Linked DNA regions of Homo sapiens. The protein of the gene in region 2 binds, or shares a complex with, the protein of the main gene of each other region. Each region holds a gene or a part of one and is shown on either strand. Other genes may lie near its edges.

Evidence for each region. The genes of interacting proteins can lie anywhere in the genome.
Region 1: the proteins of EDA (region 2) and EDAR are in contact, whole or in part, in a crystal structure (PDB 7X9G), measured with the Homo sapiens proteins. Residues at the interface, in NP_001390.1 of Homo sapiens: Gln256, Ser258, Ala259, Gln261, Asp265, Asp273, Arg289, Tyr310, Tyr311, Lys340, Thr341, Tyr343, Ser370; in NP_071731.1 of Homo sapiens: Glu55, Pro56, Tyr57, Leu58, Lys78, Ile86, Arg88, Arg89, His90, Asp92, Glu94, Gly95, Phe97, Val134.

Annotation. Positions count from the first base shown.
Region 1 is NC_000002.12:108,986,221-108,993,893, reverse strand, and holds the start of EDAR (tumor necrosis factor receptor superfamily member EDAR precursor), read left to right. Parts: upstream 1-4,673; 5' UTR 4,674-4,934; intron 4,935-7,673. UniProt on the Homo sapiens protein: Receptor for EDA isoform A1, but not for EDA isoform A2. Mediates the activation of NF-kappa-B and JNK. May promote caspase-independent cell death.
Region 2 is NC_000023.11:69,612,190-69,619,148, reverse strand, and holds the start of EDA (ectodysplasin-A), read right to left. Parts: upstream 3,037-6,959; 5' UTR 2,841-3,036; coding exon 2,445-2,840; intron 2,064-2,444; coding exon of another isoform or gene 2,058-2,063; exon of another isoform or gene 1-2,057. UniProt on the Homo sapiens protein: Cytokine which is involved in epithelial-mesenchymal signaling during morphogenesis of ectodermal organs. Functions as a ligand activating the DEATH-domain containing receptors EDAR and EDA2R. May also play a role in cell adhesion.

The DNA of each region.
Region 1 (7,673 bases), on a different chromosome or scaffold from region 2:
CTCGGACTTCCCAGCCTCCAGAACTGGGAGAAACAAATGTCTGTTGTTGAGGCCTCCCAGCCTACAATATTTTTGTTATAGCAGCCCAAGCTAAGGCAGGTAGCCAAAGGAAAGCCAGGCTTTTGTTTAATCAGTAGCAGGGGGTCAGTGTTCAAAGTTTAGTTAAATAACTAAATGCAGAATCTCATTCTCCAATAGGGTACAATCAACGCAAAGCCCAGCTCTTTCCTCTGCCTTTGACCTGGAGCTGTCCCATCTGAATTTATGCTGGGGGAGGACAGATCACCCAAGCTTGACAATGGTTCACATAGCATTTCATCTCCCGGTATCTAGGTGACACCCTAAAGGCCCTCCCTCTGTGCAAATACTCCCCCAGACTTAGTCTCTCCCTTTCCTCATTTTGCTAAGGATAGTGGCCCATTTTACTTCTAAAACAAGTTTCCATCATTTTCAAATCATGATATACTTGGAATAGAATCCATACCCTTTTGTCCAGCCCCCACGTGGAATGTGGTCTCTACCACCCTTCCTGGGCTGGGCTCAGCTGCCTCCCAGGCCAGCTCCCTGCTTTGTGGCCACAGTTTCCTGTCAGTTTCCTCAGCACACCTGGCTCTGGGCCCCACAGGACCTTTGTACAAGACCTTTGGTCCATCTGAAACACCTTCTGCCCAACTCTGCAGGACTGCCTTCTTCCTTCGCAAGTCTTGGTCAACTTTCCTTCTCAACAACCAAAGCACCGCCCCTCACACCCCCTTACCCCCACATCAGCTTGCTGGTGTCCGCCGTATCACCCAATTCCATTCTCATATTTTAGGCACATTTGCAAGCCTAGGAAGGTGTGGTTCCTAAGAGAGACTTTAAATCACAAATATTTATATTCCTGTTTTTTCTGCCTATGGAACTGTGACCACATGAGTAGCGGGTGCTCTGAGATGATACTTTAAAAACTAGCTGGCCAGTGCTGAGGAGGGCAGAGCCCTGTGAGGTTACCACTGACAGAGCTGGGGACAAACGCATTTTAGGAAAGCAAAGAAGCCAGGCCAGGTCAGTCCTGGGAGCCACTGTGCCACGAGGCAGGGGCAACGTTCTTCCAGAAAACAGTCCCAGTTGTGGGACAAATTTGAAGCTGCAAACTCTACACTATAGACAGAACTGTGATCATTTTATTCTGAATAACTTAGTGGGTGTCACCATGAGCATAAAAACATTTCATCAAATATACACACACTGTGTTAGGATTTGAGCAATGTCATTTCCTGGAAGGTTTTCTGAGATAGACTTCACCTGCAGGTAACCAGAAGTTTACTTGCTGTGGTGAGTTGTTAGGTGAAACCAATTATATGTCAGGGCCCAGCTGCCAGACAGGAGCATCTTGCTTTTGGAGTGTTTGATTCCCCTGCCACTTTTTGAGACAGTAATTAGTAGCAGGAAACTGTCACCAGCCAACTGATAATCCCCTCACATACAAACACAAATAATCCAGGCATCCTGTGCACCCTTGCTTATCACGGCCAAGAAGTACTTTTCATCTCCATTTCATAACTTGATTACTCTATGCCTCCCCAAACAGAGCATAAGCTTCTTGAGGCCAGCGATTTTGACTGTTGTTCTCATTGTGATCTACCCAGCAACTGGAACAGTACCGGCACGTAGAAGACGTGACGTGCATTTGCTGCATGAATAAACACATGAACATGATGGCATAGGAGAATGCTACTTTGATGGGGTACATGGGTATCAAGGATTTTCTTTCTGCTCACACAACATGAGATTTGTAATTAAGACACAGATTTAAGGTGAGTCCGGTGGCTCACACCTGTAGTCCCAGCACTTTGGGAGGCTGAGGCAGGAGGATCACTTGAAGTCAGGAGTTCGAGACCAGCCTGGCCAACATGGTGAAACTCTGTCTCTACTAAAAATACAAAAATTAGATGGGAGCAGTGGCACATGTCTGTAATCCCAGCTCCTCGGGAGGCTGAGAATCGCTTAAACCTGGGAGGCAGAGGTTCCAGTGGGCCAAGATCACGCTACTGCACTCCAGTCTGGGCGAGAGAGCAAGACTCTGTCTCACCAAAAAAATAAAAGACACAAATTTAAAATCACGATGACCAGAATATGGCTCTGTTTCACTCACTGGAAATTATCTGATCTGCAAGATAATTCTTACCAACCCCTGAGTGTTTTTTACAGGGATGGGAGTCCATTGACTCTCTAAAATCACTTGCGAAGTTTTGTTGCTGCGGAGCTGAGAGCTGGGGCCAGCCTGCCTGTTGTGCCCCTCCATAAGACTCCTGGCCATGCATTTGAGCACACCTCATGAAGGGGGCAGGTGGCTGGCCGGGCTGTTATGTGTAGCAAGCATGTGTTCTAAATTACAATTCATTTGTTCTAAATTACATTCATCATTTCTAAATTTGTTCTAAATTTAGAACACAGCCCCAGGAGACCCCCTTCACCCAACCATGTTCTGCAGTCTTGATTCATTTTCTTACTTAAAAAATGCTATTGATAACCTGTTGCTATTTCTGCCTCAGTCTCTTAGGAAATGTATAAAACAGAAAATCACATATCTTCAAAGCTCTGGAGCTTTACATGATGAAGATAAGCAATGATTTCTCATTTCATTCTTTCTCTTAATCAACTGAATTAATTATATACTCATTTTCATTTGGATATGATGACTAGGCAGACTTCAAGTATAACCATCCATAACCTTGCTTAATGCCATGATGTTTGGATTTTTTTCAAAGAGAGGAAAAAACTCCCTTGGCTTCTATTACAGCATCCATATTTTGTGCCATTTTAATTTTTTCTTGTGTCTTTTTTCTCTCTCTTTGGGAAATATCAGTATCATTCCTTTTGGTAAATTTTAAATCACCACTTAATTTCCAATAGAAAAAATGTTTTAGTTACACCTAAAATAATCCCAAACCTCAAACACACTGTGAGCACACCAGAAAGTAAAAATTATATGGAGTAGAACAGATTAGCCCAGAATACCTCCCATTCATTTTCCCAGGTTCCTAATTTAATAATTTCAGTGACTTTAATTTATCACAGACCCTCAGTCTGAACTCGGCATGAGCAGGGTAGACAACCAAACCTGAAAATTCAAGTTAAAATTCTTGTTTGGGAGCTTATATTATCTAGATTAATCATCCACAAGGATCAAGTCAGCTAAGTAACTCTGGTTCAGCTTAATCTCTGTGGAGGCAGAATTAGTCCTTTACAGTCTAGGTCCTTGCCCCAGCCCCATACATTTCTGTCTGCTTTTTTCTTTTCTTTTCTTTTCTGTTTTGAGACAGATTCTCGCTCTGTTGCCCAGGCTGGAGTGCAGTGGCACAATCTCGGCTCACTGCAACTTCCATCTCCTGGGTTCGAACAATTCTCCTGCTTTAGCCTCCACACATGCCACCACCGGCTAATTTTTGTATATTTTTTTTTTTTTTTTTTTTTGAGACGGAGTCTCGCTCTGTCACCCAGGCCGGACTGCGGACTGCAGTGGCGCAATCTCGGCTCACTGCAAGCTCCGCTTCCCGGGTTCACGCCATTCTCCTGCCTCAGCCTCCCGAGTAGCTGGGACTACAGGCGCCCGCCACCACGCCCGGCTAATTTTTTGTATTTTTAGTAGAGACGGGGTTTCACCTTGTTAGCCAGGATGGTCTCGATCTCCTGACCTCATGATCCACCCGCCTCGGCCTCCCAAAGTGCTGGGATTACAGGCGTGAGCCACCGCGCCCGGCCTAATTTTTGTATTTTTAGTAGGGACGGAGTTTCACCATGTTGGCCAGGCTGATCCCAAACTCCTGACCTCAAGTGATCTGCCCGCCTCAGCCTCCAAAGTGCTGGGGTTACAGGTGTGAGCCACGGAGCCCAGACTGTTTCTTTCTTAAGCTCTTACTTTCTCATGTGTGAGTTACCTTGTAGGTTTCCAAGGCAGAGGGGACAAGATGGAAAAGGAGAACACAGAAATCTAGCCTGGAGGAGCTGCTCTGTTCCTGTATTTATCTGTGTAGGTGTGAATGAGGGAGAAAATGACAAGAGAATGACATTATTTTAAGGCTGTTTTCCCCCCCCCAATCATTTACTTTTTGAGAAATAATTGCCCAATACTGAAAGGTATGTCCTTTCAAAATGTTGATGTTTCAAATGGCTTCCTAATTACCTAGTTATACGGGGGGTGTGTATGGTTATCTGAAGTTACATGGGTATACACTGGTGGTGTGAGGTGTCCAGAGAGAGGAAAGGAAGAGCAGTCCTGGTGGCTCAAACCCTGAGGGATGTGCGGGGGATGGGTGAGAATGTGAACAGACATGTTGGAAGCTGAATCCGTGCAGTGGCACCCATGCCTGTAGCCATCTCAGTGGGGGGTCCTTCTACGAACAAGCTTTGATTAATGATATTTTAATGCTAGTTTAGCTTTTTAGCACTCCCACGCCTAAAGGCTCTGATAGAAGCAAGGCCCCCACCCCTGCAAAAAAAAAAATCCATGATTTTTACGCATTCCAACAGATCTCTTAAGGGGCAGACGGCCGGAGAGCCAGGTGTGCCAGGGACCTATGGCAGCAGGGCTGAACGTGCCCGCTCCAGCCTCTCCAGTGCTGGGAGAGACCTCTAGATGGTGCAGGTGAGTTTGCAATGAGGGAAAGCCCCTCGGCAAGGACTGAGTTTCCAAACTTGCAGACAGGGCAGGGAGCGGTCAAGGAAGAGTTCCCGGGAAGCCCTTTAAACGGAAAGGAAGCGGGGCTAGTGTCAGAGAGGTGTGCCAGGTCCCAGGCAGCCCTGCTGGCCCCTAAGGACATAGAGTACCTGCTTCTGAGAGGGCTGCCACGGTGGCCACCTGTGAAGCCTGTCACCCAGAACTGGATGGTACCTGACTTTCTTCATAGACCCATCTTCTGCTGGGACTGAAGCTGACCTCCAACAGAAGCCAGGTAAGCCCTGGTCCTTTCCTCTGGTTTTCTAAACTCTTCAGCTGTGGCCGAGACGGAGGTGTCATGGGCTGGGAGAGAGGCTGGGTGCATTTTTGAAATGCATGTCATTTTTGGGTTGCGTTTGAACAAGCTTTACCGATTGCAGTATGTCTGCGCTACCAGTTCTAAGACCTGAGATTGTTCCTTTGTTTTAGAAAAACATCAGAAACCCTGTTTTGCTGTTGGTTGCACATTTGGTTAGGGAGACAAATTCTGTGTGTGCTTCACAGGCTTTAAGATTTGGGCTACTGAAGCAACGGGTTCCTCCAGGGAGCGTGAAAAGTATGTTTCTCAGGTTTGCCCCTGTGCCCGGCTCACTGGGGAAGGCAGGCGCGGCAGGGACTCTAGCTGGGCTCTGTACCTGCCTCCAACTCTGCGTACCCGCTGTGACCTAAGAGACCTTCCAAGTGGGGTTTCCAGTCGTGTCTGAGACCCCCCATATCCTGGCCTCTGTGTTGGTGGCGGGGGAGCGGGGAGAGGGAGAGAAGGAGGGGAGTGGGTACCTATTTGTGATGATTGAGGTTTTCATTTCCAGCCAAGAGGTTCCTCTCAACACTCTGACAGACCGTGGGGTGGGTTGGGCTCCTAGACAGGAGTCGGCTCTGATTCAGTCGGCTCTGATTCCCAGCCTCCTGCAGCAGCCAAGCTTTGAGATGTCAGCTCAGGGAGAAGCGGGTGGCTGGGCAGGGAGGTCAGCAGGCGAGGTTCCCACTGGGTTTCCCTGCCCATGTTGTGCTGGGTCAGCAACAAGAGGGACAGTTAAAATCAACAAGCAGGGCAGATGCCGGTCAGTGGGCAATCCCACACAGCCAGGGGTACACGCATGTGAGGAGACGTACGGAGAGACAGGAGCACCACCGTCCTCTTCCCCAGTCCCCAGGCCACTGCTCTGTGGCTCTCAAGTGGCATTTTTGAGACACTTTCTAAGCAAGAGTGAAAGTGTAACAAAGAAGTGAAGAGCCATAATAGACTGAAGGAAAAAAGGGATCCAGGCATCTAAAATAGAGAATGTTTCTTGCCTGGCTTAATACTCTGAGATTTGTAAGTCATAGCCACTTAAAACCTTTAAAGATACATTTTGACAGAGGCCACCAAAAAGAGAGTGACTCTGGTCAAGGCTTGGAAATAAGCGTTCGTTCCGATGACAGTCCACGTGTACCCTTCACGGCTGGGAAAGTTTGGCGATCCTGGTGGCGATTGGCCGGGGGTCTCCACTGTACCCCTCCCCATCCCTAAGTGGGCCAGGCTGTGCTGTGGGAGGATTAATTTGTGACAGCACAGTTGGAGGATAATCTTGGAAGGACCAGTCTTTGGGAGGAAAAAGTAAATACACTTTCCCTGAAATGCTTGATTTTCACTCCCTGGCCACTACCTGGTTTCTTGCTTTTGTGAGCTGGACTTTCATTTTGTTGGGCATACACATTTGTGAAGCACAGACATGTCAGGGGCTCATCTTTGTTTCTCAGGCATCATGGTACCCTCTTGCCTAGCCCAGTGCCTGCCATTGGGCGGCAGCCCAACATTGCTCCGGAGTGCAGACAGACCTGGTCTTACCCCATCTCACGGAGCGCAAAACCTACTTGCCTCTGTTAAATGGGGAGCCTCTTCTAGTCAAAGTTCCTCAGGTCTCATAGGCCCACAGATGGAAGCTGGGTTACCTGACGCTCCTTTCTGGGTCCAAGTGAGTGCGTTTTGTGGTTTCCAAAGAATAGAATTTATTCTCAAGGAAATGCCCAGGAACCCAGCTTCAAAGACTCAAGCAAATCTGAAATTCAAATACAGGAGCTGTAAACAGGATGGTGTTTGGCAGACAGCCTTGCTGCTTAAGTGGCTCAGCCCCTCAGCTGGGCTCAGTTTCCCCTCACCCTCCTCCTAGCCTGCCTAGTGACTGCCTGCATGCCTCAATTATCCTGGATGACACCTGCCTGCTCGTTCCTTTGATGCTGTTTGAGGCTCTGCCTAGGTATTCCACCCACCAATAGTATCATTAATTAACTTACATTAAGCCCACTTAGCACATTAGATCAATTAGGGGACAAAAGCCCCAGCCAGCCTTTCCTGTGAGTATGCCGCCTCCATCTCAATGCCTACGATTCTGTCCTTACTGAATTCGTATATTGCAGGAAGGAATTTTTTTTAAGTCCCAAAGATTACTATTTTCCTAAAAAATAAAGCAAGGAAACATAAGCTGATGTCTAATCATTTAACCTCTGCTGTACATTTCTATGGCACTTTACAAAGCGTTGTCATGAATGTCTTCTCTATTTTCCCAATAAGGAAATTGAGGCTCAGAGAGGTTCACTGTCTTGCCCGAAGTCCCACAGCTCATAATGATTATGGGAACACCAAGAACTGGTCTAGGTTAGCACTCAGTATGCCCAGGCCTCGTGTGGAGCCTGTCACTCATAATTGGAGGGGCTGAGACTAGAACCTGTGTCCTCTGCCTCCAACACTGACACATTTGCCCCCACAAGGAGATGGTGCAATGACAGCCACCAGGGATTATAAAAATAAGAGTGGAGTAAGCAAACACTCCCCCTCCTGTATCTTAGTTTCCCAGGGTCGTGTCAGCCCCAGACACACTCATCTCCTGTCCTCAGAGGCGAGGGATCAAGAGGAAACAGTCTCAGTTTTGTTCTTTGTGAACCCTCCTGATAAAAGTTAGAGTGTTTGTAGTTTTTATATAGTGAAAAAAACTGT
Region 2 (6,959 bases):
AAAAACTAAAATATAAAAATATGACCTACGTGGCCAAATCCCACAAGGCTGTTTACTTCCTTATTTACTGAATCAGAATCTGTCAGCACAATGTAGAATTCTGAGTGTCAGCAGATACTGAAAATTAAATGTCACTGTAAAGCCAGCAGAGGGTGCACCAGGGCACTAGAAATTTTAACCAAGCTTGTAGCAGTATTAATTTAATACCCAATCAACTTTTTTAAAAAGTTATTTTTGTATACTAAAACTAATATACAAGATAAGATAAACTTAAGTTGAACAACTTAAAATAAACAAGTTGAATTTGGGCTAAAATTCCTTCAAAGTATACTCCAAATCTGAAAGTGAAGTTCAGGAAGAATAAGGAACACACGGTTAAACTTACTGTGGTCAAAATACAGGCAGAGTAGAACAAAATGATGCAGAGCTGAGCCCTCTACTTTGCAAAAGTTCTAATGTGGAGCTCCATCTTGCTCCCTCGCAAAAGGTCCCAGGAGGTAGTTGGGGGAATGGGCACCCAACTAGGAGTTAGAGCAACTATCATCCCAGTTTTGACTCTAGTTATGTGACCTTGGGCAAGTCACTTTCCCTTTAGGGCCTATGTTTCCCAAGGGAATCAAACGAAATGGACTCATATAAGCCCTTCATAACTCTAGGAAACTGATTCCAATTGATGTCAACAAATGTAAAGAGCTAGTATCCTTGCTTCTATTGCTCAAAAATATTAAAACAGAAAGAATAAAAGACAGAAGATAGGAAGCTGTGTTTAAATCTAGACAGAACTATTTTAGTGCCACACAAAGGGTAGGTAACTAAATGCCATTATACACCTGTAAGAGTTTCATGCCATCACAGAAACCTTACAGTACAGCTGTTCTGCTAATCCTCAGTCTATAAAAATGGCTCTGTCCATCCTGAATGCCAAAAAGTATTGGCCAACATTTGATTAAAGAAGTTTAATTCTTTCATCTTTTCACAGAATATCAATGTTCAGCTGCTAAATACTTCTGCTGGGCATTGGGGTGTGGGGGGAGTGGCAGTAGATAAATAAAGGAGTCAGAATCCTAGTTAATTATCGTTTAGCTACAATGTTTAAAGTTTCAAGTATGAGAAGCATGTCTGCTGATTCTCTTCTTTGATAAGCTGTTATATAAATTGGAGTGTGCTAGTAAGACATTTTAAGGCTCAGGGCAACTTTACAATGCACATCTTTTTTTTTTTTTTTAAGTATCAGTCCTAACATTACACTATTATCATGAATATGATGTCTCTATCAAGCGTACCACTTTAGATGGGAGGTCAAAGTGGCACAAATAATGTTTACAGAGTTGTGACAATGACTCTGGATGTGGCAGTAAATATAGAAGGCTTGGGTCCCTCACCTCAAGGAACTTATTTGTACAACTTGCTCTCTTCCCTAAGAGGTACAATTTTATTATTATTCTTTAGCCACCTCGAAAGGATCCTTGGATGCTTCTCCTAAGTTTCACATATGGCAACCAAGACAGTATTTACGTTAAGTGAACGAAATTTACTTGAATAAAAAGCTAGAAAGAATAGAATAGAAAACAAACACCAAAGCTAATAGTTTGCTTATTAGGGCACAAACACCATAAAGATTGCAAAAACAAACAAAACTGCTCTTGGGGGACGAGTCCTGAGTAATTATTCCATTGGCAGATTCCCGTTCTCAAGCTAACAGTAGTAAAAGCGCTTCCCACCCACCCTTCCCACCGCACACCTACCCCGCTTAAGAATCAGAACCGGCATGCAAAGGGTGAGTTTTATTTCCATAGATTTTTAAAATTGCTGTTCAGAAGTTGTCTAGCAAGACGGCATATTTCTACCAGAATTCCTCAGGGGCGCTGATCCTCACTAGAACGCCGAGGACAATCAGTCTCAAATTGCAGGTAAGTGTGAACAAGCCCACGTTCTGGTCAGCGCACAAGGACCCGCGCTGAAAATGCGGTTAAAAGTTGTTTCAACGGGCGGGCGTGGAACAGTTATTACAGCTGTTTACAGCTCCAACTCCAAAGGGGAGCCTGCTGGTTCTGGCATCAGCTCTAGACACGAAAAAACAAGCACCGCGGGCAGAGAACCTCATCACGAGCAGAAGGGCCAAGCCGTTAGTCGGCCGGGGGGCAGCGCAGGCACCTCCTCGACGGGAGCGTCGCCAACTTTTCTCGAGGCAGCCCGCAGCCAGGGGCCGCGGGCGCGCGCGAGACTTTCCAAGTCAAGGGGTCCCCAGGGAGTCTGGATTAGCTGGGCCAGGGACCGAAGACAACCTGCCCTGGGCAACTTCTCCCTTGCTCGCCTGGTCCCTCCCTGGTCCTGCCCTCTAAATTGGCTCGAGGTTGCTGAGTGCTCCCAGGCCCCTGTGGCGGAGGGCCCTCGCCCTACCCGCGAGGGGAGGGGGCCGCCGCCGCCCCTACTAGGTGACTCACCTGGTGCCCGTCCTGGGAGTCAGAGTGGAGTGCGGCTTCTCCCGGTTCCAATGGCTGCTGCTTAGGTGACGGCTGCCCAAGGTGACTGGTGATGGGGCTGTCAGGGTCGAGGCCACCGAGGCTGCTTAGGGTGCCAGAGGTGCCAGGGGTGCCCGAGCCGCCAAGGCGGGACTCGGCTCCACGTTCCCGCCGCAACTCCGAGCGCAACTCTAGGTAGCAGCACAACGTCAGCAGGTGGAGGGCCAGCGAGAGGCCAAAGAAACCCAGGAAGAGCAGGCAGCTGTTCCCTTCGCCCGCCCGGGCAGGGGCCCCGCCACACCCGCAGCCCTGGCTCCCTCGCTCCCGCGGCGCTGCTGCAGGCAGGAGTTCCCTGCGCTCCACCTCCGGGTAGCCCATGGCCTCCGGAGACACCCACTCTCTTGAGGCCCGGGAGCCGCTGCGTCTGCCTCAGCCGTTCACGACCTCTGACAGGCGGCTACTGTCCTGCCATCGGCTGGGGGCTGCAGGGACCCGTTCCTGCGCGACAGTGGCTGGGCGGGACGGAGCAGGGAGCAGCCGCATGTGCAGCTCTACTCCGAGGGGTGGGAAAGGGAGGAGGAGGGGCGGGAGAGAGGGGAGGCTCGGCCCGCCGAGGGAATGAAGGAGGAGGTCCCGGCCGACCCCGCCCCATCCCTCAAGCGGCTGCCGGGACGCCCAACCACGGGGCCGCCAAGCCTTGGCGCCCCGCCCCGTGCCGTTCCAGCCGGGCCTCCAGCCGCGGGGCGGGGCCTGGGGGCGTGAGGGTTCGCCTCTGCCTGGCCGCCCCACCCAGCTCTTCCCGCTTGCCCCGTACCAGTTGGTGACTGGCGCTGTCGTTCATCCCTGGGCTCCGCCCCAGTTTAACCCTATAGCGCCAGTACGGGGAGGAAAGGAGGGGGAGGCTAAGAATTTGGGAACCTTGGAAAGAAAGTAGAGCAAAGAAAAGGAGGCAGAAACTAGCATTAATAGAAATGTTTGCAATTAACTGCAGTTGTTAATAACATCATCCAGTACTTATCTGTTGCTTCCAATCTTCAAAGCGTTTAACAGACGTTAAACTAATTAAAACAGCTCTGGGTTTGGAATGAAACCATGCCTGCTGTGTTTGCAATTCAATGGCTCGCCCGAAGAAAAGGAGACCCAGGAGCCTGGGAACTATGGGAATGGGTGGGACTCAAGCAGCCTCACTCCTGGAGTGACTCTGAAGGCTCAATCTAAGTAACAGAGAAGCCGCCCCATGCCAAGCGGAACTGAAATGATGTTGTCCCTTGAAGGGTAAAACAGTCTCCTAGGATTTCTTGATATATTAATTAATTCAACAAATATCTATCGATCCCTGTACAATGCAAAAAATGCTGTATGAGAGCATCCACAGCCAGAATAGATTTCTTCCACTGCAGCAGTTTTGATTGGAGAACGTATGTCTTCAGTGAGTAGACAGGGAAACCGAGGGCCAGAATGAAGTGGATTTGTACAAGTGTGGTCCACAGAATGGCCAGACACTACTGGCATCTTTATTTACAGGCAACTGTTCTGGCCTCTCCACCCCTCCCATCCTTCTCCTGGAGTACTCCCTGGGGGAAGTTCAACAAGTCAGCCAAATGTTCCAGATGTACACTGCTGCAACTGCAGCATCTTCAACAGCTGCACCAATCAGAAACGGGTTCAGATAAAAAAAAAAAAGTGGCAAAAGGCAGAACAATAGACCCTGAAATGAAGGATGGAAAGGATTAAATCAAGAGTCACAATTGACAAGAGTTACTAGTCTGAGATTATAGAAAGCGAAATGACCATAGCAGGGGAACCATGTATGCTTCATAGTCACTACGCACTCTCATTCCGTGTTATTGAGTAATGAATAATTAACAATTTTATTGACTTGCAGCAGGCATCTTGAGTGTCATCATGGAGGCTCAGCAATGCCGGGGGCACTTATGTGTAGGCCTAAGACCTAGGCTGGTGGAAGAGAAGAAAAACATAGATAGAAATAGAAAAGAAGACAAAATAAGAGAAATAAAACACAAAACCAAAAGCATCTGCTGGCAGGTCAGTCCAGAGAGCACAGAGGTCATAAGCCTTAAATATATTAGCCACAGACAACTTTTCTCTGTACACTTTGTGAATGGTCTCAGTGCTTCAAAAACATCTTTGTGTCGTCTCTTTAACCCCTACCCATGAAATATAAAGTTCACAAAGAATATCATCATCCTAGAGCTAAGGGGAAAAAAGGTGTTTAACAGCTGCTCTCAAGTCCTGCTTGTCCAGTCCAGGAATTCTAGATGCTAGGAAAACTGCCAGGCTGATTTACTTTAATTATCACAGCCCGGGATTATTGGAAAGAATGCTAGACCAGGAGTCAGGAGACTTCATCCTGCCACTAGGTTGCTGGGTCCCTCTGAGCAAGTCACTGTGCTTTTTCAGGGCCTTAGTTTCTCCGGCAGTAAAATGAGGAGTTTGAACTTTAACAGCCTTTACACTGTGTTTTGTCTGTGTTGTCACTGGCCATGTTGACTTTCTTGCATACACAGTTTAAACAGGCTGCCCTTTCTTCCTCTAAAATGAAAAGGAAACAAATGACAGCCATCTCCTGGTGGTGATGGTGATGCTCAGGGGCCACACTGGTCTCACCTTACCATGTTCTACCAGGCTTGACTGAGACTCTGGATTACACCATTGCCCTCAGAAGCCCTGAGGGTTGCATTTGACCTGGGACCTCTCTTTGCTTCCCCAGAGAAAGAACATGTGTCATCATATGCAGTAGAAATGTTGGAATGGGGCAATCCAGAGAGGAATGTATGTGGTTATTTTTTAAGTGTTTTAAAGTTTTGTTTCAGTTAGCTTCTATGCTTCCATACGTATCCTGTCCCCTAAAGCACAGGTCTCAATGACAGCCTGCAGGCCACATCCAGCAAACAGATGTGTTGTGTTCGGTGCAGTATCAACTAAACCTTTGAATTAAAAAAAAAAAAAAGCAATTGTCAGCTATTGGAACTCTGGAGATTTCACATTTTTAAAAAATCCAGATTTCCTGCTTTTCTGTTAAAAAACCAGAAGACCCTATAACTCTGGATTCACATTCCCATGTGGCTACACTCAGCTAGAACTGTCTCCTTGAAATAAGCATGAACAATCAAGTTCCACAGCCATCACCACCTCTTTCTTCTATCCTTCATTACTGTCCTTGTCACTCATTCACCTTACCTCTTTGATCCCAGGTACTACGGGAGACAAGATATAAGCTCCTTAACATGCCCTCTAGTCTGTCTCTCCAACATTATCTTCCACCATTTTACAAGGAAGTCATGCTTGCACACTACTAAATTTGCTGACACTTCTCACACCACCGTGCCTTTGAACAAACTAGTTTCTTTGTCAAGATTGCCCCTACCTTAGAAACCTGATAAATTCTTCAAGAATCAATTCACATGTTCTGTCTGGTATGGCCCCACAACTCACTCCAACCAGACTTCCTTTGTGCTTTCATTGCACCCTGAGCATACTTTGATGATATCACTTACCACACTGCATTTTGAATGTTTCACATGGATTTCTTACCACTAAACTATGAGCTCCTTGATGGTAAGAATTGTGTCCTTTCTATTTTGCTATTTCTAATCTCTAGCATAGCACCTACCACATAGTAGGCACCAATATTGTTTTATTTTGATATTTCTAATACCTAGCATGGCACCTACCACATAGTAGGCACCAATATTGTTTGTCAAATGAATAAGACATGAAGTCACTCACGGTAACTTAGACTACCTAGAATTCCAAAAAGGGAACTTGTCCAAGGGATGCCTGTCCGTACCACTTATGAAACATTTCCTGGGTGAAGAGCTACATGATACATTATGGAAAGTTACAAAGGAAATAGAACCAAATGAAAATTGTGAAATTATCCTCTTACTTGTGCTGCTATGGAAGTTGTGAGTAATCCAGAAAAATAAATAATCCAGAAATTAAAATATAGTTGGTTTGTAATATTTCACTGACCTGTCTGTCTCATCAAGTTTCCCTTCCTACTTTTGTTTGTCTGGCCCTAAAAAATAATATAGCTGGGCGTGGTGGCTCATGCCTGTAATCTCAACACTTTGGGAGGCTGAGATGGGCAGATCACCTGAGGTCAGGAGTTCCAGATCAGCCTGGCCAACATGGTGAAAACCCATCTCTACTAAAAATACAAAAATTAGTTGGATATGGTGGCGGGCACCTGTAATCCCAACTACTCAGGAGGCTGAGGCAGGAAAATCGCTTGAACCAGAGAGGCGGAGGTTGCAGTGAGCTGAGATTGTGCCATTGCACTCCAGCATGGGTGACAAAAGCGAAACTCTATCTCAAAAAATAAAATAAAATAAAATAAAATAAAATAAAATAAAATAAAATAAAATAAAATAAAATAAAATAAAATAAAATAAAATAAAACAATATTAGTTGACAACCCCCAAATAATAAAGATCCAAAATATGTTGTCAACCCCTGAATACCCACCAATTG